Linked DNA regions of Homo sapiens: regions 1 and 3 are each linked to region 2. The links come from fine-mapping of genetic effects on gene expression. A gene starts in region 2. Each other region holds a variant in brackets. All regions are shown on one strand. Distances are from middle to middle.

Region 1 (10,043 bases), 340 kb before region 2:
GAAAGCCCTGAGGCAGGGAAGCAGAGAACTGCACAAAGTACTTTCTGGGTGGGATGCCGTTGGCAGGAGTCAGGACTATCCACCATGGTATGGCAGAAATGAGGAAGGCAGAGTACCAAAATGTCTGCTGCAGGGATCACACTGCATATTTTATTCCATTTTTTTAAACATAATATTACATTTGTAAATGTTTTCCATATCATTAAATATTCTTCAAAACAGAGGTTTTAGTGGCCGCATAATATTCCACAGTATTGAATGCAATGGAATTTATCATTGTATATAAAATTATATTGTTGTATATAAAAATTACTCTGACACAATTCCTCATCTCTAATTACTTCTCTTAGACACATTCTTACAAATGGGTAACTTTTCTTTCTTTCTTTTTTTTTTTTTTTTGGTTCTCGATGCATATTTCCATGTTGCCCTCCAGAAAGATGTTTGTACTTCCACCAGCAAAAGGAGTAGCTAACTTTAATTGTTTTTTTGAGGTGGAGTCTTGCTCTGGCACAGGCTGGAGTGCAATAGCGCAATCTCAGCTCACTGCAAACTCCGCCTCCCGGGTTCAAGTAATTCTCCTACCTCAGCCTCCTGAGTAGCTGGGACTACAGGCACATGCCACCACACCCAGCTATTTTTTATTTTTTAGTAGAGATGGGGATTTCATCATATTGGCCAGGCTGGTCTTGAACTCCTGATCTAGTGATCTGCTCGCCTTGGCCTCCCAAAGTGCTGGGATTACAAGCGTGAGCCACTGAGCATGGCCTGGAGTAGCTAACTTTTAATATACTTCATCACTCCTTCATACAACAAATACTTATGAAACACTTGCAATATACCAAGTATATTATGTGCTATTAATGTAAAAGTCTTAGTAATTTGATAGAAAATATGTTATCTTGTAATTTTCATTTTAAAATTATTGAGTTTTTAGGTTTAGACTAGAAAATTTTCGTGACTTGTCTGTTGTTGTTATATTTTTCTATTTATGTGTTAATATTTTCTCCTATTTGAACTTTGTTTATGGGGTCTTATTAACAAAATTTTACATTTTTAAGTAGTGAAATATATAGATGTTTTCCCTTCATGATTTTTATCCATTGTTATTTTATTTTTTATCATTTATTTATTTTTTGAGATGGAGTTTTGCTGTTGTCACCCAGATTGGAGTGCAATGGTGCAATCTTGGCTCACTGCAACCTCTTCCTCCCAGATTCAAGCGATTCTCCTCCCTCAGCCTTTTGAGTAGCTGGGATTACAGGTGTCCACCATAAGGCCTGGCTAATTTTTTGTATTTTTAGTAGAGACGGGGTTTCAAGGCTGGTCTCGAACTCCTGTTCTCAGCTGATCTGCCCACCTCGGCCTCCCAAAGTGCATTGTTGTTCTTTAGAAAGTGGATCTCCATGTGGAGATCTGTTTTTCAACTAAACTATTTTATTTTCTGTCTCTTTTTCCTTCTTCTAGCTCTTTTTAAATATATATATATTTTTAATTACCTTGTGAAGCCTCTTAGATTTTATTTTGTTGTAAGATGTAAGACAAAGAATATTTTTTCCTACATAGTTATTTTCTCCCTAGAATTATTTTCCCATTGATACGTGGTGCTAATTTTATCATATATTAAATTCTTATATATGCTAAGGTCTGTTGCTTGGCAATTCTAAGTTTTAAAAACACATTTTTTTTTTTTTAGTATTTTGACTAGAATGACTTTAAGTCTACACATTAGTTTGGAAAAGAACTGACTTTACAATAGTCAGCACTTCCATCTAGCAGCAGGAGGTCTCGCAGTCAAGTTTTTTACTTTCCTTCACATGGGTCAATATTTCCAGTTAGAACGATTCCTATCTATATTTTTGTTGCTATTGTGCTGTACTTACATAATTTTCTAAACATTTATTCCTGGTATATAGGAAAGGTATTTACTTTTTATACATTTTTGGGATGGTTGGGAAGGGGGCAATCTGAGAAAAAGTGACTGTAGATTTCGTCTAACATCCTGACAAAGATGCATCTTGAAGTCAGACTATTGTGTGTTCTAGTCCTGTCATTGACACATTGTAGTTGTGTGATCCTGGCCAAATTACTTAACTTGGACTCAGTTTTTGTTTTCGTTTTTGTTTGTTTGTTTTTACCCGCAACAGGGGAATAATAATAGTATAAGTCTATTATTCTTTATCCAAAAGGCATGGGGCCAGGTTCTTTTCTTTCTTTCTTTCTTTTTAAACAGAGTCTCACTCTGTGGCCCAGGCTGGAGTGCAGTGGTGCAATCTTGGCTCACTGCAACCTCTGCCTCCCAGGTTCAAGCGATTCTTGTGCCTCAGCCTCCCGAGTACCTGGGACTACAGGCGTGCGCCACCACGCCTAATTTTTTTTTGTATTTTTAATAGAGACGGGGTTTTGCTATGTTACCCAAGCTGGTCTCGAACTCCTGAGCTCAGGCAATCTGCCCACCTCGGCCTCCCCAGCGAGGATTATAAGCATGAGCCACCACGCCTGGCACAGATGCGTTCGGAATATAATGTATTTTGGATTTTAGAGTGGTAATATGATGTCTAAACCATATATTCCATAACTCTACCACTGGAGTCTGGGGCAGCACCCTATAATTAAGCACATTCATATTTCTGCAGAAATAAAGTGAGATATAAAAAGCCAGTTGAGTTTTAAGAACTTCCTGAATTTTGGAACTGTAGACAAGCAAATTATAAATGTTCAACTTAAACCAGTTTAAAGGATATTGTATCTAAAACAGGGCCTGTCCCAATAAAGACTAATACTTTATTAGGTCACTTTCTTATTTTTTTAGGTAAATAATCTAAATAGTAGATTATAATTCTATCTCCATTCCAATACCTCTTAATTTCATTTCTTATTGTATCAGCTGGAATTTCCAGAATGTAAAATAAATGGAGTTAGAAGCCATCTTGGAGCCAGGTATGGTGGCTGTAATCCCGCCTGTAATTCCAACACTGGGAAGCTGAGGCAGGAGGATGGCTTGAGCCCAGGAGTTGGACACCAGTCTGGGCAACATGGCGAGACCCTGCCTCTACAAAAATAAAACAGGCTTGGCGTGGTGGCTCACGCCTGTAATCCCAGAACTTTGGGAGGCCGAGGCAGGTGGATCACGAGGTTAGGAGTTGGAGACCAGCCTGACCAACATGGTGAAACCTCGTCTCTATTAAAAATACAAAAATTAGCTGGGCGTGGTGGCACGCGCCTGTAATCCCAGCTACTCAGGAGGCTGAGGCAAGAGAATCACTTGAACCTGGGAGCGGAGGTTGCAGCGAGCCGAGATCGTGCCCCTCCACTCCAACCTGGGTGACAGAAGGAGACTCCGTCTCAAAGAATAAAAATAAATAAAAATAAAAAAATTTAAACTAATTCACCATTATGATGTTAATTAGCTTAGCTGTCATTTTAGATTTTTGTTTGTTTTTTTGAGACAGGTGTCTCATTCTGTCCCCCAGACTGGAGTGCAGTGGCGTGACCACAGCTTACTATAGCCTCGACCTCTTGGGCTCAAGTGATCCTCTCACCTCAGCCTCCTGAGTAGCTAGACTACAGGTGTGTGCCCCTACGTGAAGATCCTTAATGTAATAATTTGGTTGTGTCACAAATCTGGATCTTGGATTTGGAGGCTAGTGAGGGAGCTGAGTACCTGGTTTGTTGCTGACTTGTAACCTAAATGGTACAGTAACTGCTTATGAAAAATGAGGTATCAAGAGAAGGAAAGCCTCATGTCTACCCAAATAGCTTCACGTTCATGAATGTCTGGACATATCCTCTGAGTGTCAGAATTATTATATTTCTCATATTTAAAAAATCATATCTGTATTTTTTTTTGAGACAGTCTAGCTCTCTTGCCTAGGCTGAAGTGCAGTGGCGGGATCTCGGCTCACTGCAACCTCTGCCTCCCGGGTTCAAACGATTCTCCTGCCTCAGCCCCCTAAGTAGCTGGGACTACAGGTGTGCGCCCCCATGCCCAGCTAATTTTTGTATTTTTTAGTAGAGATGGGGTTTTACCAAGTTGGCCAGGCTGGTCTCGAGCTTCTGACCTCAAGTGATCCACCCCCCTTGGCCTCCCAGTGCCAGGATTACAGGCATAAGCCACTGTGTTTGGCCTCATATCTGTATTCTTATATTTATTGATTGATTTTTAGATGGAGTCTCACTCTGTTGCCCAGGCTGGAGTACAGTGGTCCGATCTCAGCTCACTGCAACCTTGGCCTCCCGGGTTCAAGTGATTCTCCTGCCGCAGCCTCCTGAGTAGCTGGAATTACAGGTGCACGCCACCACATCTGGCTAATTTTTGTATTTTTGTAGATACTGGGTTTCGCCATGTTGGCCAGGCTGGTCTTGAACTCCTGACCTGAAGTGATCCGCCTGCCTGGGCCTCCCAAAGTGCTGGGATTACAGGCGTGAGCCACTGTGCCTGGTATGTGTATTTCTTACTAATCAAAATGTTCTTTGAGTAAAGATATTTAAAGATTTCAGGCATTTTTCTTGGCATTTTGTATAACCTTTCTGCATTAACCCTTTGTTATCCATTCCAGGTAGTTTGTTTAGAAAACAAAACAAGAAACAGATTGATTGAGACAGAGTTTCACTCTTGTTGCCCAGGCTGGGGTGCAATGGCATGATCTTGGCTCACTGCAACCTCCACCTCCCAGGTTCAAGCGATTCTCCTGCCTCAGCCTCCCGAGTAGCTGGGATTACAGGCATGTGCCACCATGCCCGGCTAATTTTTTTTTAGTATAGACAGGGTTTCGCCATGTTGGTCAGGCTGCTTTTGAACTCCCGATCTCAGGTGATCTGCCTGCCTCAGCCTCCCAAAGTGCTGGGATTACAGGCATGAGCCACTGCGCCCAGCCAGAATTAGAGTATTTAATGTCCACCCTTTTATTTTCATTATTAGAGAAAGGGTCTTGCTTTGCCACCCAGCCTGGAGTACAGTGTTGTGATCATAGTTTACTACAGCCTTGAATTCCTGGGCTCAAGTGACCCTCCCACTTAAGCCTCCCAAGTAGCTAGGACTCCAGGTGTGTGTGCACCACCACA[A/C]TTGACCTAATTTTAAATTTTTCTGTAGAGACAAAATGTTGCCACACTGGTCTTGGGCTCCCAGTGTATTGGGGACTATAGGCATGAGCTACTGTACCCAGCCTAATGTTCACCTATTTAAAATGATCTATTTCTTCTCATTCTTTTAATTAAGCATAAACAACCAATATTTAAAACTATTCTATATTTAATCCTAATTCATCTAGATTTTGCCTTATAATGTAAAAACTTACTTTCTAACAAATTACAGAATTTTAGTTTTTCACCTCTGAAAAGGAGCCCCTAACAGTAAAACTGAATTAGTTGCTAGTCTCTCATCCACTGATTCTAGGAGGGTGACATCAGTCAAGGCTCTAAGGGTGTGGAAATTCAGCTTGTCTTTAGAGGATTAGCCCTTTTACATAGACCCCACTTTCGAAACGATGGCAGCACTTTCAAAGAGCCTAGTGGATTAGGATGGGTAATCCTAGAACAACCTGGAAGAACAAGGAAGAACCCTGCTTCCTTGTTAGGAAATTTTACTATTCCTGACAGCTCTGAAGAGGATGTGGTTGGTGAAGTTTCCTGCTTCTACTGGTCATATGTTTATGTGGCCTCCCCTTGTGTGGCCCTGGTGGCTGCAGAAACAGGGGCAACTCTAATTTCAGGGACTGGCATGAGACCAGCAGCCACACTCACCTGCATGAGGTCAACAGCACCAGACTTCCTCTGTGCAAAAGAGGACACAAAATGTATTACCCTTAGACTTTCCAAGATTTTTTAATCATCTCTAATTAGTGGTTCAGGTCACCAGTCTAGGGACTTTAAAAAATCCTGTACATTAAAAAAAACATAGGCTACAGCTGAGTGCGGTGGCTTACAGCTGTAATCCCAGCACTTTGGGAGGCCGAGCCAGGTGGATCACGAGGTCAGGAGTTCGAGACCAGCCTGGCCAACATGGTGAAACCCCGTCTCTACTAAAAATACAAAAATAATAATAATAATAATAATAATTAGCCGGGCATGGTGCCAGGTGCCTGTAATCCCAGCTACTCAGGAGGCTGAGGCAGTAGAGTCACTTGATCCCGGGAGGTGGAAGTTGCAGTGAGCCAAGATCACGCCACTGCACTCTAGCCTGGACGATAGAGCAAGACTCTGTCTCAAAAAAAAAAAAAAGTTACCATGAATATACAGTTTGTTCTTTCTTCCTGAACATTGTGATGCTGGGTCTCTAAACTTTAATATAAACCAATTCCTTAATGTTATCTTCAAGTACTTATTATTAAGGAGGCACAGAAACTACACACATTCTATGACTTTTCTAGCCCTGTTTCCTGAAGGTAACTAAAATTTCTACCCTTGAAAATACTGGTTCTTAATGAGTATAAATGCTTTTCTCAAAACTATGGAAGATCATACTAATCCTTTTATTATAGTTAAAGCATTCAGTGGGACTTGGAGTCCACATTCAGTAGTATCTTGTTTGAATGAGAAATTGTAAAATAAAGGCCTTTCCTCACATGCCAACTTACGGTCAGGGTGGATTTCTTTTTGGAGACCGGGTCTTACTCTGTCACCCAAGCTTAAGTGCAGTGGCACAATCACAACTCACTGCAGCATCAGACTCCTGGGCTCAAGTGATCCTCTTGCCTTAGCCTCCTGAGTAGCTGGGACTACAGGTGCAGGCTACCATGCCCAGCTAATTAAAAATTTTTTGTAGAGACGAGGTCTTGCTATGTAGTCCAGGCTCATCACAAACTCCCGGCCTCAAGCAATCCTCTCACTTCAGCCTCCCAAAGTGCTGGGATTATAGGTGTGAGCCACAGCGCCCGGCCAGAGTGGGTTTCAAAACCAAAGTTGTAGTTTGTTATTTAATTATACCATATAGCTAGTTTACATTTCTGGCTTTTTTTTTTTTTTTTAAGATGGCATTTCTGTCACCCAGGCTGGAGTGCAGTGGCACAATCTCTGCTTACTGCAACCTCTATCCCCCGAGCTCAAGCAATTCTCCCTCCTCAGTGTCCTAAGTAGCTGGGACCACAGATGTGCATGCTAAGTTTTTATATTTTTGGTAGAGACAGGGTTTCACCTTGTTGCCCAGGCTGGTCTTGAACTCCTGAGCTCAAGTGATCTGCCCGGCTAAGCCTCCCGAAGTGTTGGGGTTACAGGTGTGAGCCAGCACGCCTGGTGCTGGCTATGAAATGTCTTAAGCCAAGTAAACTTGTACCAGTGTCAACAAAATGACTAAAGCTACAATGTGAAGATGGTGAATATTTGTCTGCATATACCAAAGGCTTAATACTTAAAATTGGAGGCAAACCACAATGAGACATCACCTCACTAGTTAGAATAACTATTATCAAAAAGACAAAACATAAGAAGTGTTGAGGATGCAGAGAAAAGGGAACCCTTACAATTAAGGGAAATGTACATGAGTACAGCCATTATGGAAAACAGTATGAACGTTCCTAAAAAAATTAAACAGAATTACTCTATGACCCAACAACTGCACTCCTTGGTATGTATTCAAAGGAAGTGAAATCCGTATGTTGAAGAGGTATCTGCAATCCCATGTTTATTGCAGGACTATACACAATAGCCAAGATATAACTGACTTAAGTGTTCAAAGTGAATGAATGGATAAAGAAAATGTGATATATATACACAAAGGAACACTATTCAGCTATTAAAAAGAATGAAATCCTGTTATTTATAACATGAATGAACCTAGAGGACAATACATTAAGTGAAAATAAGCCAGATACAGAAAGACAAATGCCACATTTTCACTTACATGCCAAGTCTAAAAACGTTGATCTATAAGTAGTGAATAGTACATAGAACAGTGGTTACCAGGGACTGGAGGTGGTAGTGGGAGGGATGGGGAGAAGGTGGTGAACAGCTAAAAAGTTACAATTAGACAGGAGGGGCCCAGTGCAGTGACTTACACCTGTAATCCCAGCACTTTGGGAGCCTGAGATAGGACTGTTCGAGGCCAGGAGTTTAAGACTAGCCTGGGTGACATAGGGAGACCCCTATGTCAATATTTTAAAAGATAAAAAATTAGCCAGGCCTGGTGATGCATGTCTGTAGTCTTAGCTACTTGGGAGGCTAAGGTGGGAGGACTGCTTAACCCCAGGTATTTAAGGTTGCAGTGAGCTATGAGCACGCCTGCCACTGCACTCCAGCCTGGGTGAGATCAAGTACCTGTCTCAAAAAAGAGAAAAAAGGAGTAAGATTTGGTATCCTATTGCACAGCAGAGTGACTACAGTCAACAGTAAGGTACTGTGGACCCAGGCACTGTGGCTCATGCCTGTAACCCCAGCATGTTGGGAGACTGAGGCAGAAGGATCGCTTAATGCTAGCCAGGAGTCTGAGACCAGCCCACGCAACATAGTAAGACCCCAACTCTACAAAAAAATAATAAAATTAGCTGGGTACAATGGTGTACACCTGTAGTACCAGCTACTAAGGAGGCTGAGGTGAGAGGATTACTTAACAAGGGAGTTCAAGGCTGCAGTGAGCCATAATCATGGCACTGCACTCTAGCTTGGGCAATAGAGCAAGATCTTGTTTTAAAAAACAAAAAACTAATAAGGTATTGTGTACCTCAAAATAGCTAGAGGAGAGGATTTTAAATGTTCTCACCACAAAAACACCGTGTTTCAGGTGATGGATATGCTAATCACCCTAATTTGATCATTATAATGTATACATGTATCGAAACATCACATTGCACCCCATAAATATGTACATTAGGTGTCAAAAATAAATTTTAAAATAGGAGGTGAAAACAACAGGATGCAATTATTTTCCAAAAGCCTTGTTTTTATTTATATAGAGTCCTAACCACTTCGGTGGTAGGAGGAGTGGGAGAGGCTCCTTTTTCAATCCAGGGACCTCCATGATGTTGGTTTGTTGTTACCAAACACACAGGTAAGTGGCATCACGGATCTGGTAAACTAACGACAATGTTTAGTCTCTCTCTGCTAGAGCAACAAGGTGAGCATCAATCTCTGCTTCTGTAAGAATCCTAGAAGGCAAAAGGGGGAAAAAAACAACGATTTAAAAAAAATTTTTTCAAACACACGTAAAAGTGGGATAGTATAATAAACTCCCATATACCTATCAACCTACTTTAACAATTATCAATTTATAAACCAATCTTTAAAAAATCTATACACACACTTATCTTCCCTCAGATTATTTTGAAGGAATTCCCAGATATTATACCACCTTCACCTATACACAAAAATGTTTACTTTGACATCAGATTTAGAATTGTATCTTGAAAATAAAATTCTTTAGTTGCAGCTAAGATAGAAAATATTTCAATTGAATAACATAAATAAAGCTAAACTATAAAGTATTCTATTTAGCTTCTATGTCAAAATGCATTTATTTTTTATTTTTTTTGAGACAGAGTCTTGCTCTGTCACCCAGGCTGGAGTGCAGTGGCGTGATCTCGGCTCACTGCAAGCTCTGCCTCCCAGGTTCAAACGATTCTTCTGCCTCAGCCTCCTGAGTAGCTGGGACTACAGGCATGTGCCACTATGCCCAGCTAATTTTTCTATTTTTAGTAGAGATGGGGTTTCACCATATTGGACAGGCTGGTCTGGAACTCCTGACCTCGTGACCCGCCTGCCTCAGCCTCCCAAAGTGCTGGGATTACAGGCGTGAGCCACCTTGCCCAGCCGTCAAAATACATTTATATGTAGTATAACTGAAATTTATGTCAGCTCAAAGATAAAAATTCATGAAGAAATTTTAAGCATATTAAAGTGTTCAGATTCAGAAGTTCATGAAAATAAAGTTATAATTCTATGAATAGTCTACCAGCCAGAGAGTGCTCCATGTTGAACATATATTTCCTTTCTCTTTTTTTTTTTTTTTTTTGAGATGGAGTCTGACCCTGTCGCCCAGGCTGGAGTGCAGTGGCACAATCTTGGCTCACTGCAACCTCCGCCTCCCAGGCTCAAGCAATTCTCCTGCCTCAGCC
Region 2 (10,043 bases):
GAGTTCAAGCGATTCTCCTGCCTTGGCCTCCCAAGTAGCTGGGATTACAGGTGCCTGCCACCACACCCAGCTAATTTTTTATATTTGTAGTAGAGATGGGTTTTCACTATCTTGGCCAGGCTGGTCTTGAACTCCTGACATCATGATCCACCCGCCTCAGCCTCCCAAAGTGCTGGGATTACAGGCGTGAGCCACCACGACCAGCAATTTTTATTTTCTTATATCTTTTTCTAATTTCCAATTTTTTAGTAATGACTGAGAACACTATTTTTTAAGTCAAGGGAAAATTATTTTCCAAAGCGTTCCTTGTGAGAATTAGAGTGCAACTAGTCAACAGACTAGAGGTTGGGATGGAGCTGCCACTTGTATTCATTTACTCATTCATTAAACACCTACTATGTACTCCAGAAATTGTCCCAGCATGAGAGAAGTTCTAATTCCTAATCAAATATAACAGTTTAACACAAGACTCCCTTCAAAAGATAAATTATGCATCATACCACCTCTGTCTTAACTTAGCACCAAAGATTATATTCAATTATATCAAGAAGTATCAAGCAACTTTCTCTTCATTAAAGTAATTGTTTTTCAAATTTTAAAACTCATTTTATGTAAAATAATATCACAGCACCAATTCGTACTTTTGCAGCAAAAAAGGTATACCAAAAAAAAAGTCAATTAGCAACAAGAGGTAATAACTCAGGAACACTGGGAATCATTTCTTTACGATACTTTCTGGCTATGAGGTCAACCATAAAAAGAATCTTTACATAAAATGCTACCAAGAAGAAAATTAAAACGAAAATCAAAAGAATTCCTTGGAAAGTTGGCCTTAACATTGAAAAGAAAAAGGAAAAGTGAAAAATAAAAAAGGAAAAGGAGGGATAAGAGGCATATGCTCAAGCAATGCGTTATTTCAATGACATTTAGATAATGCCTATCAGTAAAAATTAAATGCTCAATCAGACTCTCCAGAGATAGTAAGGTAAAAAAGTTTTAGGGGGAGTAGCTTCATCTAAATTCTTAATCTGGAGTGCAAAACAAGACATTTATGTTTTGAAAACTTTCACTAGCTATATTGATGTGCAGCAAGGGTTCATAATCACTATATTAAGTATTTAATAACATGTCCCAAAGAAAACAACAGAATGAGAAATCTGTTCTATACCTTAGAAACATCTTTAGATACAGTGTAACAAATACATTGGAGGGAAAAAACTGAAGAGCCAGGACACTACATGCACTACCCATACTCCATAAGGCTAGTTGAGACAAGATGTGGCCTTGAACTAGAGAAAAAGAAACTAGGGTTAAGGGCTAATTCATGAAGCAGAATCTAATGACCAAATGGTTATGGCAAGTGAAGGAAAAAAGAGGCAAAAATGATTCCAATATCTCTAGTTTTTATAACCAGATGGCTAGTGATGCCATTAACCAATGAATGGAAGGCAAAAAGGGAAGGTGGTTTGAAAGTCAGAGGAGTTAATAGAGAAGAGGTCAAAGGGACTTAATGTATTATTTTTAATGTTTCACTTTTTATGAAGGATGTGTACATAGATGTTCATTTCATTATCCCTCCAACTAGCTGGGACTACAGGCGGCGCCACTAAGCCTGGCTAATTTTTGTCTCTTTTGTTGAGACAGGGAGTTTCGCCATGTTACCCAAGCTGGTCTCGAACTCTTGAGCTAAAGCAATCTGCCAGCCTCAGCCTCCCAAAGTATTGGGATTACAGGCGTGAGCCATTGCTCACAGCCCTTATAATCCTTTTAAAAATTTAACCTACTTGTATCACAAAATTCAACCAGAGGTCAAAACTCAAAAACGCACTGACAATCACTGCTTTTATACACTTTCGTATGCATGACATATGTCATAGTGAAAAAAAAAAAAAAAAGGAAGGTGAAGACAGTGCATTTGGTTTTGGACCTAATGAGTTTGCAAGTTTTAGGGGAAAGTACAGAACTATCAACTCATGAGATGGAGGCTAAAGAATAAGGTTTAGGCAGGGCATGGTGGCTCACACCTGTAATCCCAGCACTTTGGGAGGCCGAAGCAGGCGGATCACTTCAGGTCAGGAGTTCAAGACCAACCTGGCCAACATGGTGGAACCCCATCTCTACTAAAAACACAAAAATTAGCTGGGCGTGGTGGCAGGCACCTGTAATCCCAGCTACTCGGAAGGCTGAGGCAGGAGAATTGCTTGAACCTGGGAGGCGGAGGTTGCAGTGAGCCGAGATGGTGCCTCGGTACTCCAGTCTGGGCGACAGAGCAAATAAGGTTTGGAAAAGAACAAGGTTTGGAAATGAAAAGAATAAGGTTTGGACATGGTTGGCATATAGGGACAATGCCATGGAAGCAAGCGAGAAGCCTCGAGGAGAGCCTGTGGAAGACCATTTGGGTTATAGCAATGACTGAGGGCCAACTAAAAGGACGGCGTTAACCAAGACTGAAAATAACCAAAGAGATAGGAGCTTTTACTAATTCCCTTTCCCTTTCTCCATGGCACATAGGAGAAAATCAATTTTTAAAAAGCTACATTTATGGTTATCTTACTGTAATCCTGTGGCAGGTCCAGAATTTCCAAATAGATGGGGACAGAGGAGTAATCTGGAAGGAAGACTTGAAGATGCTTTTGCATAGTACTCTATATTAAGGTAGAAAATACCAGTTGGCCATATCAAAAAACTGAGAAAAAGCGATTTGAGGGAAATATTTCCCTCCCCTTTGGCACCACGATTGCTGTATTCTAGGCACTAAACCAAACCAAACCTCTTACCTAATCTCCTTTCTTCCTCAAAACAAGCCTATTAAGTAGATGAGGAAATTGAGGCTAGATTGGAATAGAAACTGGCTCAGGGTCACAAAGCACCTAAGGAGCACTTTAGCTCTCCCACAGCTTTCTACAGCTCTTTATATGCAACTAGTGTTTCTCATTACCCATCTTGATATAATGTGTATTTATGTGCGTTAGCTTCTCAATGGCAGAGTTAGTGTTATTCATTTCTGTATCCTTGTAGCCAAGAACAAGTATATATTTTGTTAAATTAAGCATGTGAAAGAATCAGGTGAGGATAGCATGAAGAAAGGCAGCAGGGGAAAGTTTCAAGAAATGGATGGTCAGCAGCGTCAAATGGTACAGAGAGAGCTATCAGTCTATCTTAAATCATCATTGGCATTCAACTGATATTCCATATTCGTTTATTGAACGTCTACTACACGCAGGACATTGTGTTAAGCACTACAAACACATAGGAAAAATAAAAGTCTCGTACAAGTAAAAGGATTTTCGGGGAAGTAGCTTCATCTAAATTCTTGCTCAGGAAAGCAAAACGAAGACTCAGGCCTGCAACTGCCTACATCTTATTTGGCTCAGGTAAATCGGAAGACAACTCAAAAGGGGCACAGCGCATCTTTAATAAAACTTCTCATGGAAGACGAGATAAAGAGCCACAGAAACTCAGTCTCGGTAACGATGGCCGGTGGCCACGGAGGCCGACTTCCCCCGGAGTCTCTCGCCTCCTGAGCAGCGCTGGGGCTGCCCCTCGCTCCCCCTCCGTAGTCTGGGGCGGGAAAAAGCAGACACTTACCGCAAAAGACACCGCTAAAGCCGTGGCCCTGAGGGGCCGGGAATTCCTTAGCGAGGCCCCACGCCGTCGGAAGAAACCCAAGAAAGCTGGGAGCAGACAGACAGGTATGACCCCACAACCCAACTTCCCGAACTAGATAAAGTAGGGTCCCAACGCCCAGCACCACGTCGTCAACTCCCACCAGCTGGAAGACCAACGGAGTGCCAGCGAACCTTCCGCCCAATGAGGAAACGTCACCACTCCGCGTAGTCCAGCCTTTCTATAGGAGAATCTACTTCCGCTTCCGGGGCACACCGCCGCGTTCCTTCTACGCGGCTCCTGAAACAGTTTAGATGTTTACTTGCTTACACTGGTTTTTGGTTTCAGTTTCCTACCGCTGAATAACTGCAGGAGTAAAGTTAGTGGTAAAATAGGAGGCTGTCTAGGGACGTGATTTCGGGGAAGAAGTCAGGCCTCGACGAGCCACCTTAAGAAAAGTGACTAGGCGGAGCACTCCCAGCTAAGAGCGGAAAGATGAGAGATAGAGGTGTGACTGAAGGCAGGGATCCCCAGGCGCACGTGAGACCTCCGTAGAGGGGCGGGGCTTAGGGCTTTGCAGACCGGAGGCTTGTTCCGCGGAGGGTGGGGCGGTCTCTGCTTGCGCATGCGCAATGCCAGCCAGTGCCTGCGCGGCTTGCTCCAGCAAGGTAAAATTTCCCACTGCGAGGCAGGCAGTGATGCTGCGGCCGCTTCGCACTGTGGCTCCTGCCGACCGCCAGGCGCTGTTACAGTGGATGCGAACTAACCGTAAGTGTAAGTGACCAGAGCTAGAGGCAGGTGGTGGGGGCAAGGATATGCTGCAGGCGCTGACTTTGAGGACTTAAGCGGGGTGAAGCCAACAGCCTTCCTTGGGATCGTTGTGCTGGTCTCTGCTGTCTTGGGGGGTAGATTGACCAGGGCTTTGAGTGCTCTAACGGAAAAGAGAGTTAGTTGCTCGCCACACGTAGACACCAATTAACAAGAGCGAGCCCTAGTATACAAGAAGAGGGATTTTATTTCTGAAGCCAGCCCGCTTCGTCTTTGGAGCAAAAAAGCGGGCATTTTATAAGGTACAAGAGGAAATGAGCAAGAGGTCTCTGCTAGCTGGTGCCTTATCTACCGGGTAGTTGAGTTGGTGCATTTCTGAGCAGAAATAAGTTGTAAAAGTGGCCAAGTGGGCATGCTTTCTGCTTACCCTTCTGAGGCGACCGCCTGGCGGTGGGAGTTGCGTCTTGGATCTCGTAGATGAATTTGCTCTGTAGAGAATGGTCTGGTGAGGGGAGTTGAGAGGTTATTTTGCAGTTCAAAAAGGGCTAAGTGGAAAGTGTAGTGGGGAGGGGAAAAGAGGGGAAAAAATAAACTATCTCTTGGAAAATGGGGGTAATCGGATACAGTACCACTTGGAATTAATTGGGTGTGGGAAACCTGGTTCTGAGTGGTTTGTGAGTTTTCAGCAGACTTCGGACAAGCCTTTAGAGCTCCTTGTGCCTAACCCTTTTTCTGAAAGAAAATAGAGGGTTAGCCCTCCTCCCCATTACTCCCACAAACTTGTTAGAATTGGTACGTTGCCACCTGAAAAAGCATTTTGCAGGAGAGGTTTTAGGCTGTAGCGTTAGTAGGAAGTGTTAAACGAAAAACCTTAGCCAAGTTAAATTTAACATTTTGAGCAAAGAATGATTCACGAATCGGGCAGGCTCAGAGAGATTGCAGCGCAGCCAAGTGTTGAAGATTTATAGACAGAAAAAGGCTGCAGTGAGCTTTGATCCCGCTGCTTCACTCCAGCCTGAGCGACGCAAGACCCTGTCTCTTTAAACACACACGTTAAAACTGAGGAAATGTGGTAGCTAGATCTAGTTACTGAAAAATGGGATAGATGTATTCTGGCAAAGTAAAGCCTGATGAAAGCTCAAGAAAATAGGATATTCTTATGTTTGTTAACTATAGCAAACTATCCTATGCCTGTATGCGAGAGTGTGTGTGTGTGTGTGTGTGTGTGTGTGTGTGTGTGTGTGTATGTGTGTGTATTTATTTTTTGAGACAGAGTTTCACTCTTGTTGCCCAGGCGGGGCTGCAGTGGCGCCATCCAGCTCACTGCAACCTCCACCTCCCTGATTCGAGCGATTTTGAGTGGCTGGGATTACAGGCGTCCGCCACCACGCCCGGCTCATTTTTGTATTTGTAGTAGAGACGGAGTTTCACCATGTTTCCCAGGCTGGTCCCAAACTGCTGACCTCAGGTGATCTTCCTGCCTGGGCCTCCCAGAGTGCTGGGATTGCAGGCGTGAGCCACCACGCCTGGCCACTATGCCTGTATTTTGCTGAATGGTGATTTCCATGGTTATTTTTATCCAAGCTCATGACTTGAAATGTCATTGTTAGCTGATGACTTACAATTTTAGATTTTTAACCTCGACCTCTTAAAATTCTTTGTGATGTTAGAGTCAGTAGGTTTAGATATTATAATTAACATTATTACACATTTTAGGAGTCATTTTAGATAAGATGTCAAACTGAAGATAACAGGAACATCTGCTAGTGAGATTTGACCTGGAAAGTATAGAAAACCAGATACACAGCTTTGTTTATTTATTTATTTATTGAGACGGATTCTCAGTCTGTCGCCAGGCTGGAGTGCAGTAGCACGATCTTAGCTCATTGCAACCTCTGCCTTCTGGATTCAAGTGATTCTCCTGCCCCTGGAGTAGCTGGGATTACAGGCACGAACCACCGCGTCCAGCTAATTTTGGTATTTTTAGTAGAGACGGGGTTTTACTATGTTGGCTAGGCTGGTCTTGAACTCCTGACCTCGTGATCTGCCCTCCTCGTCCTCCCAAAGTGCTGGATTACTGGCATGAGCCACCGCACCCAGCCGGATACAGCTTTATTTCTATATACACAAAATCAAGATAATAATTTCCATAATATGCTGAGTCTCCTGTCACTTCATCTAAACCCTATGTTGCACATTTCTTTTTTGTTTTTGTTTTTGTTTTTGAGACGGAGTCTCGCTCTGTCCCCCAGGCTGGAGTGCAGTGGCGCAATCTTGGCTCACTGCAAGCTCCGCCTCCCGGGTTCACGCCATTCTCCTGCCTCAGCCTCCCGAGTAGCTGGGACTACAGGCGCCCGCCACCACGCCCGGCTAATTTTTTGTATTTTTAGTAGAGAGGGGGTTTCACCGTGTTGGCCAGGATGGTCTGGATCTGCTGACCTCGTGATCTGCCCGCCTCCGCCTTCCAAAGTGCTGGGATTACAGGCGTGAGCCACCGTGCTCGGCCGCACATTTCATTCTTCATATCCCATTTGTCAATAAAACAGCACCGATTTACATCTTTTTTTTCACATTCCTCAGCACAAGGTCATTTATTCTAAAAGCACTGAGTGCCTAGAAAGATGTCACATACTGCCTAGAGCTGGCAATTGTAAAATTACTAAAACATCTTTGCCCTCAAGATTTGTTTTGTGGAGCCATTTGCAATCTAAATTTTGATTTTTTTTTTCCTGTGTTTTGTTTGTTTTTGAGATAGGGTCTTTGTCACCCAGGCTGGAGTGCAGTGGCACCATCATAGCTCACTACAGCCTCACACTCTTGGCCTCAAGGGATCCTCCCACCTCAACCTCCTAAAGTGTTCAAATTACAGGCATGAGCCACTGTACCCAGCCTCAAATTTTAGAGATATCAGTTGAGACTCTATTTTTCAAAATCAGGAAGACTTGAAAGAACGTTTTGGATAATTTTGTAAACAAGAGCCAATATCACTGGCTAAAGAATATATTTTTACTTTTTTTTTTTTTTTTTGAGTCAGAGTCTTGCTGTCGCCCAGGCTGGAGTGCAATGGCACGATCTTGGCTCACCGCAACCTCCGCTTCCTGGGTTCAAGCGATTCTCCTGCCTCAGCCTCCTGAGTAGCTGAAACTACAGGCACGTGCCACCACGCCTGGCTAATTTTTTTGTATTTTTAGTGGAGACGGGGTTTCACCGTGTTAGCCAGGATGGTCTCAATCTCCTGACCTCGTGATCTGCCCGCCTCGGTCTTCCGAAGTGCTGGGATTACAAGCGTGAGCCACCGCGCTCGGCCCTATTTTTACTTTTTTTAAAGGTACTTTTTGTTGTTTTTAAAGAAAGGGTCTCACTCTGTCACCCAGGCTGGAGGCTGGTGTGCCGTGACACTGTTATAGCCCACTGCAGCTTTGACCTCCTGGGCTCAAGCAGTCCTCCTACCTCAGCATCCTGAGTACCTGAGTAGCTGGACTATGGTGCAAACCACCACACCCAGCTTTTTTAAATTTCCTGTAGAGACAGTGTCTCACTATGTTGCCCAGGCTGGTCTCAAACTCCTGGCCTCAAGAGATACTCCCACCTTGGCTTCCCAAAGTGCTGGGATTACAGGTGTGAGCCATCGTACCTGATCTAAAGGTACTTCTTGTGCCTCTCTTCAGCAGATCCTGTAGTGAGGAAGCTCAAGCAATTTGTTAAACAATTTAAAAAATAACTTGAGTTTCTGAAGAATGTTTATTAACCCGAATATTTTAAGAAGTGAGGCCGGGCATGTGGCCCACTCCTGTAATCGTAGCACTTTGGGAGGCCGAGGTAGGTGAATTGCCTAAGCTCAGGAATGTGAGACCAGCCTGGGCAACATAGTGAGAACCTGTCTCAAAAAAAAAAAAAAATTAAAAATTAAAAAAAATTTTAAGAAGTGAGAGTATCACTGAACTTAAAATAAAGGAGTATGGTTATTTATAATCCTTAAAAAAAGTAGTGTATTAGTATACCTTCTTTATTGTGGTAAAATATGTATAAAATAAAATTTACCATTTTGACCTTTTTTTTTTTCCTTCAGACAGAGTCTTGCTCTTTGCCCAGGCTAGAGTGCAATGGCACAATCTCGGCTCACTGCAACCTCTGCCTCCCAGGTTCAAGCGATTCTCCTGCCTCAACCTTCTGAGTAGCTGGGATTACAGGCGTGCACCACACCTGGCTAATTTTTGTATTTTTAGTAGAGATGGGGTTTCACCATGTTGGCCAAGCTGGTCTCGAGCACCTGACCTCGTGATCTGCCCACCTCAGCCTCCCAAAGTGCTGGGATTACAGGCGTGAGCCACCACGGCCAGACCATTTTGACCATTTTTTACTGTATAGTTAAGTGGCATTAAATATGTTCACGTTGTTTTGTAAATATCACTATTAATCTCCAGAACTCTTGTCTTCCCAAACTGAAACTCTTAGTATACCTTTTTATGAAGTGGTCTAAGTACAGCACAAAATATTCTTCTAAACAACCATTTTTCATTTTCCTAATTAGATTTCCTTTTGCCTGGGGAAATTTGTTTTTTTTTTTTTTTTTTTTTTGAGACGGAGTCTCGCTCTGTTGCCCAGGCTGGAGTGCAGCCTCCTGAGTAGCTGGGATTACTGGCACATGCCACCAAGTCCGGCTGATTTTTATATTTTTAGTAGAAGTGGGGTTTCACCATGTTGGCCAGGCTGGTCTCGAATTCCTGACCTCAGGTGATACGCCCATCTCGGCCTCCCAAAGTGCTGGGATTACAGGCCTGAGCCACTGTGCCTGGCCTCTCCTATAATTTTTAAATAAATTTTTAAACCTCTGGCATTAAGTCATTTAAATAATGTCTTGCATGACATTTGCCTAGACTTTTAATTTAAATTATAACTCTTCTTGAATTTTTATACCATTTGATGGAATAACAAAAGACAACGCTAGATGTTGAGTATGGCTTTGGTTTTGAGTTTCATAAGAGTTTATTAAAACTAGACAACATGGCTGTGTGCAGTGGCTCACGCCTGTAATCCTGGCACTTTGGGAGGCAAGGCAGGCAGATCACCTGAGGTCAGGAGTTTGAGACCAGCCTGGCCAACATGGTGAAACCCTGTCTCTACTAAAAATACAAAAACAAAAAATTAGCCAGGCATGATGGTGTGCACCTGTAGTCCCAGCTACTCGGGAGGCTGAGGCAAGAGAATTGCTTGAACCCAGGAGGCTGAGGTTGCAGTGAGCCAAGATTGCGCCACTGCACTCCAGCCTGGGCAACAGAGTGAGACGCCATCTCAAAAAAAAAAAGGAAAAAAGAAACATAAAACAAAGGTGGGAGCCTAGATGTTTCTTTGTACAGCTTAGGCTAGGAAATAATGAGCACTAGTGTCAGACAGGTAAACCAAGTCTGAGGGGCAATGCAGGCAAAAACAAGTTCCTCTCCCCCCAAAAAAAGATAAAAAGCAGTTAAAATACAGCAGTACTGGAACTCATTGATTCTGATCCTCTGGCAGAGTATCTTTTCCCTACTATTTTCCTGATGTGTATGAAGTGGGCTCTTGACCTAGATTTCAAAGTGTAGGAGACTGATTGCAATCCATTAAGTGAGGGGAGTTGAGAACCAGATCTGCAAATGGGGTCCCCAATAGGGCAAATAGAAAAGATACAATGC
Region 3 (10,043 bases), 49 kb after region 2:
CCACAAAACCCAGCCACCGCCCTGGTCTTTCAAAGCACTGGGATTACAGGTGAGCCTTAATTTAGAGATAGTATTTCCCTTCAGAGCAGATATCAGACTTGTTTACTTTCCTGTATAATAAAGTTAATGTCTCCCTCCAGAGCAAAGACCTTGCAGGTTTAAAAGTTGTCATTCAGAACTAAGGGGAGTTCCGTGGCGCCTCTGGCCTGGCCTCCCCTTTCTTGTCTGACTCGAGACACCAACTGAGTTCCTGTTTCTAGTAGCTAAGCTCCCACCGTCGGGGAGGAATCAGGGACTGTGCAGTCCCTGTGAATCCCATCCAGGTCAGTTCTAGATTCTAAACTGAATTTTTTTCATGATATTGTCAAAACAGTGAGGAAACGTTTTGTAAAGAAGCCCTAAAGAAAAAAAAAGTCATTGAGCCTTCCTAAACAATTTTCTCTTAATATATGTATTCTAAGACTTTTTAATGTATATACTATATTAGAAATCCAATTCTCTTGTAGATGTCTCTTTTTTTTAATAAAAACTTTTTTTTTTTCACATTTTCCTGCCTCTATCTAGTATGTGGAACTTAACTGAACTTAGAAGGGACTTCAGAACTATTTATTTATTTATTTATTGAGACAGAGTTTTGCTCTTGTTGCTCAGGCTGGAGTGCAATGGCTCAATCTCAGCTCACCGCAACCTCTGCCTCCCGGGTTCAAGCGATTCTCCTGAGTAGCTGGGATTACAGGCAAGCATCACCACGCCCGGTTAATTTTTTGTATTTTTAGTAGAGACAGGGTTTCTCCATGTTGGTCAGGCTGGTCTCGAACTCCTGACCTCAGGTGATCTGCCTGCCTCGGCCTCCCAAAGTGCTGGGATTACAGGCACAAGCCACCACACCCAGCCCTGTAGATTTCTCATTGAGGGCACAAACATTTATTTCCATCTCCTGTGTAACTATTCATAAACTTAAAGATGATTACTAAAGCAACTTTCACCTTCCTCAGGTTAAATAAGCAATGTGCCTTTAAACTTTCCACATAAATTCTGTTTTCTAATTTTTGTTGTTGTTGTTGTTGCTATTTTGTGTTTTCTAATTTTTAATCCTTTGGTTAATCATGCCTCTGGATTTTTTCCCATTTTCTTCATCTCTTGAATTTAGAGCCCAGGATCTGATACAATACCCTAGTAAAGGGTTAATTCCTATTGCATAGATTTTCGATACCTGCCACAGACTTGAGGGCAGGTTGAGGGCAGATACTGTTTTATACTTTTCTAGTATCAGTAACTTTCTAGCATATGTAGGTGCTCAGTAAATTCTTACTGATTGATTGGTGTATCCCAGAATTGTTTTTGAGTTGTAAATCACAGTACCACTTTGCTGATTCATGTTTAATGTTTGCTTCACTATAAAAATTGTTTGTAAAGTAAAAAACAGCAAGGAACTCTACAAGTGGTGAACAATGGCTATAAATCATAGAACCATCTTTGTTTTTGTGAAAAGTATTCTTACTTCAATTAGCAGTCTTTCTATTCCCGACCACCTATCCCAAAGGAATCATCATCAATAATGCCATCTCTGCATACAAAAGATATTCTTTAATTACGATGCTTAGCTGAGTTAGCATTTTTACTTTTTTTCCTTTTTCTATTCTTTTTTTTTTTTTTTTTTTTTTTTTTTTTTTTTTTTTTTTGAGACGGAGTCTCGCTCTGTCTCCCAGGCTGGAGTGCAGTGGCGCGATCTCTGCTCGCTGCAAGCTCCGCCTCCCGGGTTCACGCCATTCTCCTGCCTCAGCCTCCCGAGTAGCTGGGACTACCGGCACCCGCCACCACGCCCAGCTAATTTTTTTTTAATTTTTAGTAGAAACAGGGTTTCTCCGTGTTAGCCAGGATGGTCTCGATCTCTTGACCTCGTGATCCGCCCACCTCGGCCTCCCAAAGTGCTAGGATTACAGGCGTGAGCCACCGTGCCCGGCCTATTCTTTTTTTTTTTTTTTTTTTTTTTTTTTAGTAGCACTTGTTGTTGAAGCATTTTTACTTTTTGTATTTCCTTCTTTCTGAGTTACTGTGGTAGGCTGCATCTAAAATGACTCCTAAGCACCGTACCTTCTGGTTTTCACATCCTTGTGTAATTTCCTCCTCTTGTGCTTGGGCCGGACCTAATGACCTCTTTCAAAAGAATAGAATATGGCAAAGTGACAGAATGTCACATCTGAGATTAGGTTACAAAAGACTGTGACTTTCATCTTCCTCTCTCTCTTGCGCTCTCACTTGCTCATTCCAATGTAGGAAATTGCCATGTTGCAATTTCCAAAGGATAGGTCACAATCCAAAGGATAGGTCCATATGGCAGAAAAACGGAGGGTAGCCTCTAGTCAACAGCCAGTGAGGAACGGAGGCCCTGAGTGCAACACCCTGATAGGGACTAAGTCCTACCAACATCAACACCTAGTCAAGCCTTAAGATGACTGCAGCACCCGCTCAACACCTTTTATACAGCCTTATGAGAAACCCAGAGCCAAGAGACCCAACTAAGCTTTGCCTAGCTTCCTTACTCATAGACTCTGTAAGAAAATAATTGTTTATTGCTTTAAGGCACCAAGTTTGGGGGTAATTTTTCATACAGCAAGAGATAACTAATATAGATTCTGTTTGATAAATATTAACTTACACCTAACTCAGATTTCACTCAAAGAAATTAATATGCATGTGAGAAGATATATTCTTTACCCAGCCACGGGAGGTATTGCCTAGGAAAAACTTAGATAGTTGCCAACCGATTGTATCATAATCTCACTTCTGAGTTTAGAAATTAATATTAAAGGACTGTAGTTTCCAGTCAGACTTTTCCATTTAAAAACCATGAGCTTCTATTTTTACAAGTCATAGGTACTTAATTAGTTCTCCACTATTCTGTAAAATAATACACTCCTAGTTCTGTGATAACTCTGGTCAATTCTAGAAATAAGTATTCGTTAGTACAAATTACCAGAGCCTGTGGATTTGAATGTATCAATCTGTTTTATTAAGCAGGCCCCATTTTGTGAAACTCAGCTGGAAAACGACAGTCAACCTGACAATTCTCATAGATAGTTAATTTAAGAAATTCTTCTTCTTCTTCTTCTTTTTTTTTTTTTTTTTTTTTGATAGAGGGTCTTACTCTATTGCCCAGGCTGGAGTGCAGCGGCACAATCATGTCTCACTGCAGCCTCAGCCTCCGGAATAGCTGGGACTGCAGGTGCACACCACGATGCCCAGCTAATTTTTTTTTTTTTTTTTTTTTTTGAGACGGAGTGTCGCTCTGTCGCCCAGAGTGGAGTACAGTGGCTCCATCTCGGTTCACTGCAAGCTCCACCCGCTGGGCTCACGCCATTCTCCTGCCTCAGCCTCCCGAGTAGCTGGGAATACAGGCGCCTGCCACTACGCCCAGCTAATTTTTGTATATTTAGTAGAGACGGGGTTTCACCGTGTTAGCCAGGATGGTCTCGATCTCCTGACCTCGTGATCCACCTGCCTCGGCCTCCCAAAGTGCTGGGATTACAGATGTGAGCCACGGCGCCCGGCCGCCCAGCTAATTTTTAAATTTTTTTTGTAGAAACAGAGTTTCACGAAGTTGCCCAGGCTGGTCTCAAACTCCTGGGCTCGAGCAGTTTGCCCACCCCAGCCTCCCAAAGTGCTAGGATTACAGGTGTGAGCCACCACACTTGGCTAATTTTCTTTTTCTTTTTCTTTCTTTTTTTTTTTTTTTTTTGAGACAGTCTCACTCTGTCACCTGGCTGGAGTTTAGTGACACGATCTTAGCTCCCTGCAACCTCTGCCTCCTGAGTTCAAGTGATTCTCCTACCTCAGCCTCCTGAGTAGCTGGAATTACAGGTACACACCACCACGCCCAGCTAATTTTTGTATTTTTAGCAGAGACAGCGTTTCGCCATGTTGGCCTCTATCTCTTGACCTTGTGATCCACCCACCGCAGCCTCCCAAAGAGCTGGGATTACAGGCGTGAGCCACCATGCCCAGCCTAATTTTTTATTTTTTGTGAAGATGGGGTCTCTGTTGCCTGGGCTGGTCTCAAACTCCAGGGCTCAAGTGATCCTCCAGTCTCAGCCTCCCAAAGTGCTGAGATTACAGGCATGAGCCCCTGTGCCCACCCAAAAAATTATTCTTAAGCTGGTGAGTACATAAATGTTTCTTTATTATTTTTTAAATCTATATATATGTTTTATGAAGTTTTTGTTATGTGTAATACATTTCATAATAAAAACAAGGTTTAAAAAAAACAAGCTTTCTGACTTGTTCTGATATTTAAGATTTTGGTAAAAAGTTTTAAGTTTTAAAGAGTGCATATGGGCTGGTCCGAGTGCAGTGGTTTATGACTAATTAATCACAACCAGTTCCAGATTTCTTTGTTCTTTCTCTACTCCCACTGCTTCACTTGGCTAGCCTTTAGTAAATAAATAAATAAATAGAGTGCCTATGGTAGTTAACCAAAAAAAGAGTGTTTTCTAAGCTTCCATTAAGTCTATCATACACTATCATTAATTCCCCTAAGACTGTGTCAAGTTACCTATTTACAAAGATCGATTGCTCAGATCCTTCAAAGTTCATGAATCCTTTAGTTTTGGATGATAAAGAGTGAAAAAACAAAAGTTAAAGAGAAGCCCACAGAACCAGAGAAAAAAAGAAGTTGCCTTCTTTCTCATCCTTCATAAACACCTG[C/T]CCACACAGGTTGATGTCCTTTTTCAAATATTTAGTCAGACCCCAAGCACTACCTTTGACCCTGGTATTACAAGTCCCACTCTGCCTTTACTACTCATATCTGAACTTTTAATATCTAATTACAATATTCAGTGAACTGATATTACATGCTACCATTTTTAAGTTTGGAATTAAACTTGGAATTATGTTGACAAATCTGGTTTGTTTTAGAACTTAATACGATTTAGAACTTTTGTTTATTATGTTTTATAAATTAAATGCCATTTTTTACCTTTTAAAATTATCTTCCTATTTTATTCATTCAGCAAATATTTATATACCTATAGTAAAAGTATATAAACCTGATATATAGTAATATATCCAGAAATGTTCAGGATAGAAATGCAGTAGTGAACAGACAAGCAAGCTTGTAGTCTTTAAATAAATTACCAACTGTAATGCTGTTTGACATTATGTTTTTAAATAATGCATAACCTATTGTTATCAGGGAGTTATACATACCTATGTATTACCATATATCTTCCAATATAGGCTTGTAATAAAGTCAGTATACTCACGTTCTCTTTTCTAAGCATGTCTTAACAGGTTAAACCACACAACCGTGATATTTGTATATTATATAATTAACATCTTAAATAACAGCTTTGAAATTTCTTTTTTTTTTTTTTTTTTTTTTTTTTTTTTTTTGAGACGGAGTCTCGCTGTCACCCAGGCTGGAGTGCAGTGGCGCGATCTGGGCTCACTGCAAGCTCCACCTCCCGGGTTCACGCCATTCTCCTGCCTCAGCCTCCCCAGTAGCTGGGACTACAGGCGCCCGCCACCACGCCCAGCTAATTTTTTGTATTTTTAGTAGAGGTGGGGTTTCACCGTGTTAGCCAGGATGGTCTCGATCTCCTGACCTCGTGATCCGCCCGCCTCGGCCTCCCAAAGTGCTGGGATTACAGGCGTGAGCCACCGCGCCCGGCCTGAAATTTCTTAGTGATAGATTGCACTGCACTAAAATTTGAGACAGGGCCAGGCATGGTAGCTCACCCCTATAATCCCAGCACTTTGGGAGGCCAAGGTGGGCGGATCACCTGAGGTCAGGAGTTTGAGACGAGCCTGGCCAACATGACAAAACCCTATCTCTACTAAAAATACAAAAATTAGCCTGGCATGGTGGCACACACCTGTAATCCCTGCTACTCAGGAGGCTGAGGCAGGAGAATCACTTGAACCAAGGGCGGAGATTGCAGTGAGCCGAGATTGCACCACTGCATTCCAGCCTGGACGACAGAGCAAGACTCTGTCTCAAAAAATAAATAAATAAAAATTGAGGCAGATACACTTCGTATCATACACATTAAAACAGGAAAGGATTAACCCTCATCACACATATACTCAAATCAAAGTTAATACCACTTGGTTTTCTTTTTATTTGTTTTAGTAAAAATTAGACAGTTTACAATTAAAGAAACTATCTTTGAGAACCTGATCTTTCAGTCTATGGATATTTAATGAAAATAATGAAATTAGTTATCACCTTTGAAGAGGGGAGGATTCAGGGAAGAAAAACCAGTACCATCCATCTGTAATAGATTGCTTAATTGAAGATATTTAGCAAAAGCACACTGAAGACTAATAGAATTGCCCAAAGGTTTTTCTCCTCTTTGATCTACATATTGTGTCTCACATGACACAAGTGTGACACACCACCTCAAAAACAAACTTGCCCTTTCCATTCAAATACCAAACTGGCCAAGTAGGGTGGATAGAGTGCTGTGTCTCCTTCCTGGTACAGTGTGCCAGCAAGGAAAGTCTCTGTTATATAACTTCCTGCATCTTCAAAACAAAACAAGACTTCACGTAAGAGATATTACCACCCCTAGAAAAGTTCCACCCATCAGAATAGGAAATCCTCATCTGTTGCTGACAGCAGTGTCACAAAGGCCTTAAAAATGTTTAAATACCTTGACTAAACAGTTCAGTTTCTAAAAACTTAAGAAAATAATCGGATATTTGCAAAATGATTTCTGTATGATGGTTTACTACAGTGTTGTTTTATAATGGTAGTAAATTGGAAACCACCTAAACGTCCAGTAGCTGGAGATTGATTAGGTATAGGACATCCATATCCACTCCAGCCTGGGTGACAGAGCGAGACCTTGTCTTAACAAAAAAAAAAAAAAAAAAAAAAAAAAAAGTAGACAGCTGCAACTTTGGATGGCCAAAGGGCTGGCAGTGATAGGAACAGCTACTTCAATAAAGAGAACAGAAAACTGAAAGCTGTAAATTACACATTTTCTATTCTGTGCTTTGCTTTCCGGGAAGTCACATGTTCATTAGACTCCTTTTTATTTAAAAACTAGGTAATACTTCTTTCCCACCTTATAATTACCTCCCAAAATACAGTCAACACAATGCTGTGCTTTGGCTACTTTGGCTAAGAATAATCCCAAATCAGCATTTTAAACCAACAGTATCAGACCAGATCAAGAGAGGTAAACTGATGTGTTCCAGCTCTCTGTTATGACCAAGCAGGAAGTTTCCGAGCAAACCTCCACTTCTCAGGAAGTTTACGTCAAACTTAGTATTTACATCCTGTTGAATATAGTCTTAATTTTTTTCTCAATTCTAGATACTATTTGAATTAAAATGTTGGAGTAATCTGTCCTCAAATTGTTTTTTTTTAACTCTCAATAGACTATGTATATCTGTTCTAAGTGACACATGGAATACCTCCATGACTAATAGTGACAAAAGTTAAAGATTGTTTTTAGAATTAAGTACCTATAATTATAACTATTTATATCCCTATACATTATCTCTTATTCATTTGATCTCTCAAGTAGGTCCTTGTTAGCTATGTTCTGATTAACTCATTATGCAGTTAGTATACTATATGCAAACAAATAAAACCCTCAGTGGAGCATCCTGATGTTTCTCTCCAGGACTGACCGTGTAATATTGACGTGGGAAAGGTGACACGATGCTGAGTCTGATACTTCTAGCAGCTGGCTGTATGACTTTGGCTAAGGCCCTTAACCTGCAGTTTTCTCACCTGAAAATAAGAGGGGTGGGTTAAATGATCTTTAGTATATCTTCTGTGATCGTACTATGCAGGAGTGCCAATCTGTATCTTACATACAGTAAAGTCATACTTCATTATGTTTGTTTGTTTGTCTTTTGAGACAGGGTCTCACTCTGTCACCAGGCTGGAGTGCAGTGGTACAATCATGGCTCACTGCAGCCTCAACCTCCCAGGCTCAAGCGATCCTCCCACCTCAGCCTACCAAGTAGTGGGGACCACAGGTGCATGCCAGCTAATTTTTTTTTTTTAAGAGATGATGTCTCCTTGTTGCCCAGGCTGATCTCAAACTCCTGGACTCAAGCAATCCTCCTATCTCTGCCTACCAAAGTGCTAGAATTATAGGCTTAAGCCACTGCTCCTGGCGCTGATCTCAAACTCCTGGACTCAAGCAATCCTCCTATCTCTGCCTACCAAAGTGCTAGAATTATAGGCTTAAGCCACTGCTCCTGGCGTCATACTTCTTAAATTAAAAAAAAAGGCATATTCTAAGTGTAAGCCGTAGGACAAAAACTGTGCATCTTTGTAGTAGGTGTGCTAGTTAGGATTATGGTTGGAAGTAATAGAAATCTGAATGGATCTTGCTTAGATAATGAGGTGAATGTATTTTAAACACATAAAGGGTCTCACAGAACCCAAGGACACAAATTGAACTGGACATAAGGAGCCAGGAAGGTGAATGTCAAAGAGACTCTGTCTCATGTGTCCTCCTCCCTTTGTACATCAGCATCATTCCACCTTCTCTCTGTCCATCAGGTTCTTCTGCTTCCCTGAACCACAAGGTGGAAAATAGCTGCTGGCAGCTCTTCAGTTTACAAATTACAGTGTGGACACAGGAAAAGAAATGGCTGTTTCTCAGTCCAAATGCCATGTCTCAGGAAAAGGCTCCAACCGGCCCACATTGGGGCAGATGTCCATCCCAGGACTTATCAACTGTCATCTATATTTGGGACAACCTCTATTGAAAATGATGATTTTCACTTCAATTCTGAGGAGTAGGCAGGAAAGGGAAACTTTTAGAAGGAGGATATAAGTAGAAAATCTAGGCTGGGGCCAGGCACGGTGGCTCATGCCTGTAATCCCAGCACTTTGGGAGGCCGAGGTGGGCGGATCACGAGGTCAGGAGTTCGAGACCAGCCTGACCAACATGGTGAAACCCTGTCTCTACTAAAAATAGAAAAATTAGCTGGGCGTGGTGGCATGTGCCTGTAATCCCAGCTACTCGGGAGGCTGAGGCAAGAGAATCACTTGAACCCATGAGACGGAGGTTGCAGTGGCCGAGATGGCGCCACTGCACTCCAGCTGGGGCAACAGAAGACAGAGTGAGGCTCCGTTTCCAAAAAAAAAAAAAAAAAGAAAGAAAATCTAGGCTGGGCATGGTGGCTCACGTCTGTAATCCCAGCACTTTGGGAGGCCAAGGCAGGTGGATCACAAAGTCAGGAGATCAAGACGATCCTGGCTAACACAGTGAAACCCCATCTCTACTAAAAATACAAAAAATTAGCTGGGCGTGGTGGCATGTGCCTTTAGTCCCAGCTACTTGGGAGGCTGAGGCAGGAGAATCACTTGAACCTGGGAGGTGGAGGTTGCAGTGAGCCAAGATTGTGCCACTGCACTCCAGCCTGGGCAACAGAGCCAGACTTCATCTCAAAAAAAAAAAAAAAAGAAAAAAGAAAAGAAAATCTAATTGGGGTTCACACACTAAAATATCAGTGTTAATAGTATTTTTACATTTGGAAATAATTATAGATTCACAGGAGGTTGAAAAATTAGTGCAGAGAGGTTCTCTGTACCCTTCACCCAGTTTCTCCTAATGGTCAGGTCTTACATAATTATAGTGCAATATCAGTTGTAAATTTTTTATTGAGACAGTTGATTTTCATATTCTTTCCCGTTTATTATAGCACATGTGCCTCACTCTTCATGGTAAATGTTTTACTGAAGAATAACATACAGAAAAGTGGACAAGTCTTAACTGCACAGCTCAATGAATTTCCATGAAGTAAATATACCCATATGATAATCCAGCTCAAGAAACAGAAAATCACTACCACCCCAGAAGACTGCCTTATACTACCATCTTTTAAGAGTGAATCACACATGGGGTACTCCTTGTATCTGGCCTCTTTCTTTTTTTCTTTCTTTTTAATTATTATTTTTGTTTGAGATGGAGTCTCATTCTGTCACCCAGGCTAGAGTGCAGTGTCATGATCTCGGCTCACTGTAACCTCTGCCTCCCGGGTTCAAGCAATTCTCCTGCCTCAGCCTCCTG

Which allele goes with the higher level. Positions count from the first base shown, and alleles are read on the strand shown. Sizes are in standard deviations (SD) of each study's normalised expression. Not every link is listed here.
In carriers of allele T in region 3, the expression in whole blood of the gene that starts at base 3,812 in region 2 tends to be higher than with C alone (small effect, 0.19 SD a copy in GTEx).

The links. PIP is the estimated chance that this variant, and not a neighbour inherited with it, causes the effect.
Region 1: its variant is fine-mapped to the expression of SRP54 in subcutaneous fat (GTEx, PIP 0.97).
Region 3: its variant is fine-mapped to the expression of SRP54 in whole blood (TOPMed, PIP above 0.99).

The regions. Positions count from the first base shown.
Region 1 is chr14:35,316,283-35,326,325 of GRCh38, reverse strand. PSMA6 (proteasome 20S subunit alpha 6) reads right to left here. Exons shown (of 7, transcript NM_002791.3): 7 at 8,833-9,077. The coding sequence ends at 9,020. It overlaps PRORP-PSMA6 (PRORP-PSMA6 readthrough), which reads right to left. Exons shown (of 15, transcript NR_182666.1): 15 at 8,855-9,077. Among named protein-coding and RNA genes, the nearest start is that of PSMA6, 29 kb to the right of the region's middle. The variant A/C (reference allele first, on the strand shown) is at 5,065.
Region 2 is chr14:34,976,761-34,986,803 of GRCh38, reverse strand. SRP54 (signal recognition particle 54) reads right to left here and starts at 3,812. Exons shown (of 16, transcript NM_003136.4): 1 at 3,589-3,812. SRP54-AS1 (SRP54 antisense RNA 1) reads left to right here and starts at 4,238. Exons shown (of 5, transcript NR_151701.1): 1 at 4,238-4,380. RefSeq lists enhancers at 3,342-3,601, 3,632-4,131, 4,312-4,401, 3,792-4,493, 4,612-4,661 and a silencer at 5,547-5,841.
Region 3 is chr14:34,927,835-34,937,877 of GRCh38, reverse strand. The region is part of intron 2 of SRP54-AS1 (SRP54 antisense RNA 1); the gene reads left to right. Among named protein-coding and RNA genes, the nearest start is that of SRP54-AS1, 50 kb to the left of the region's middle. The variant C/T (reference allele first, on the strand shown) is at 4,705.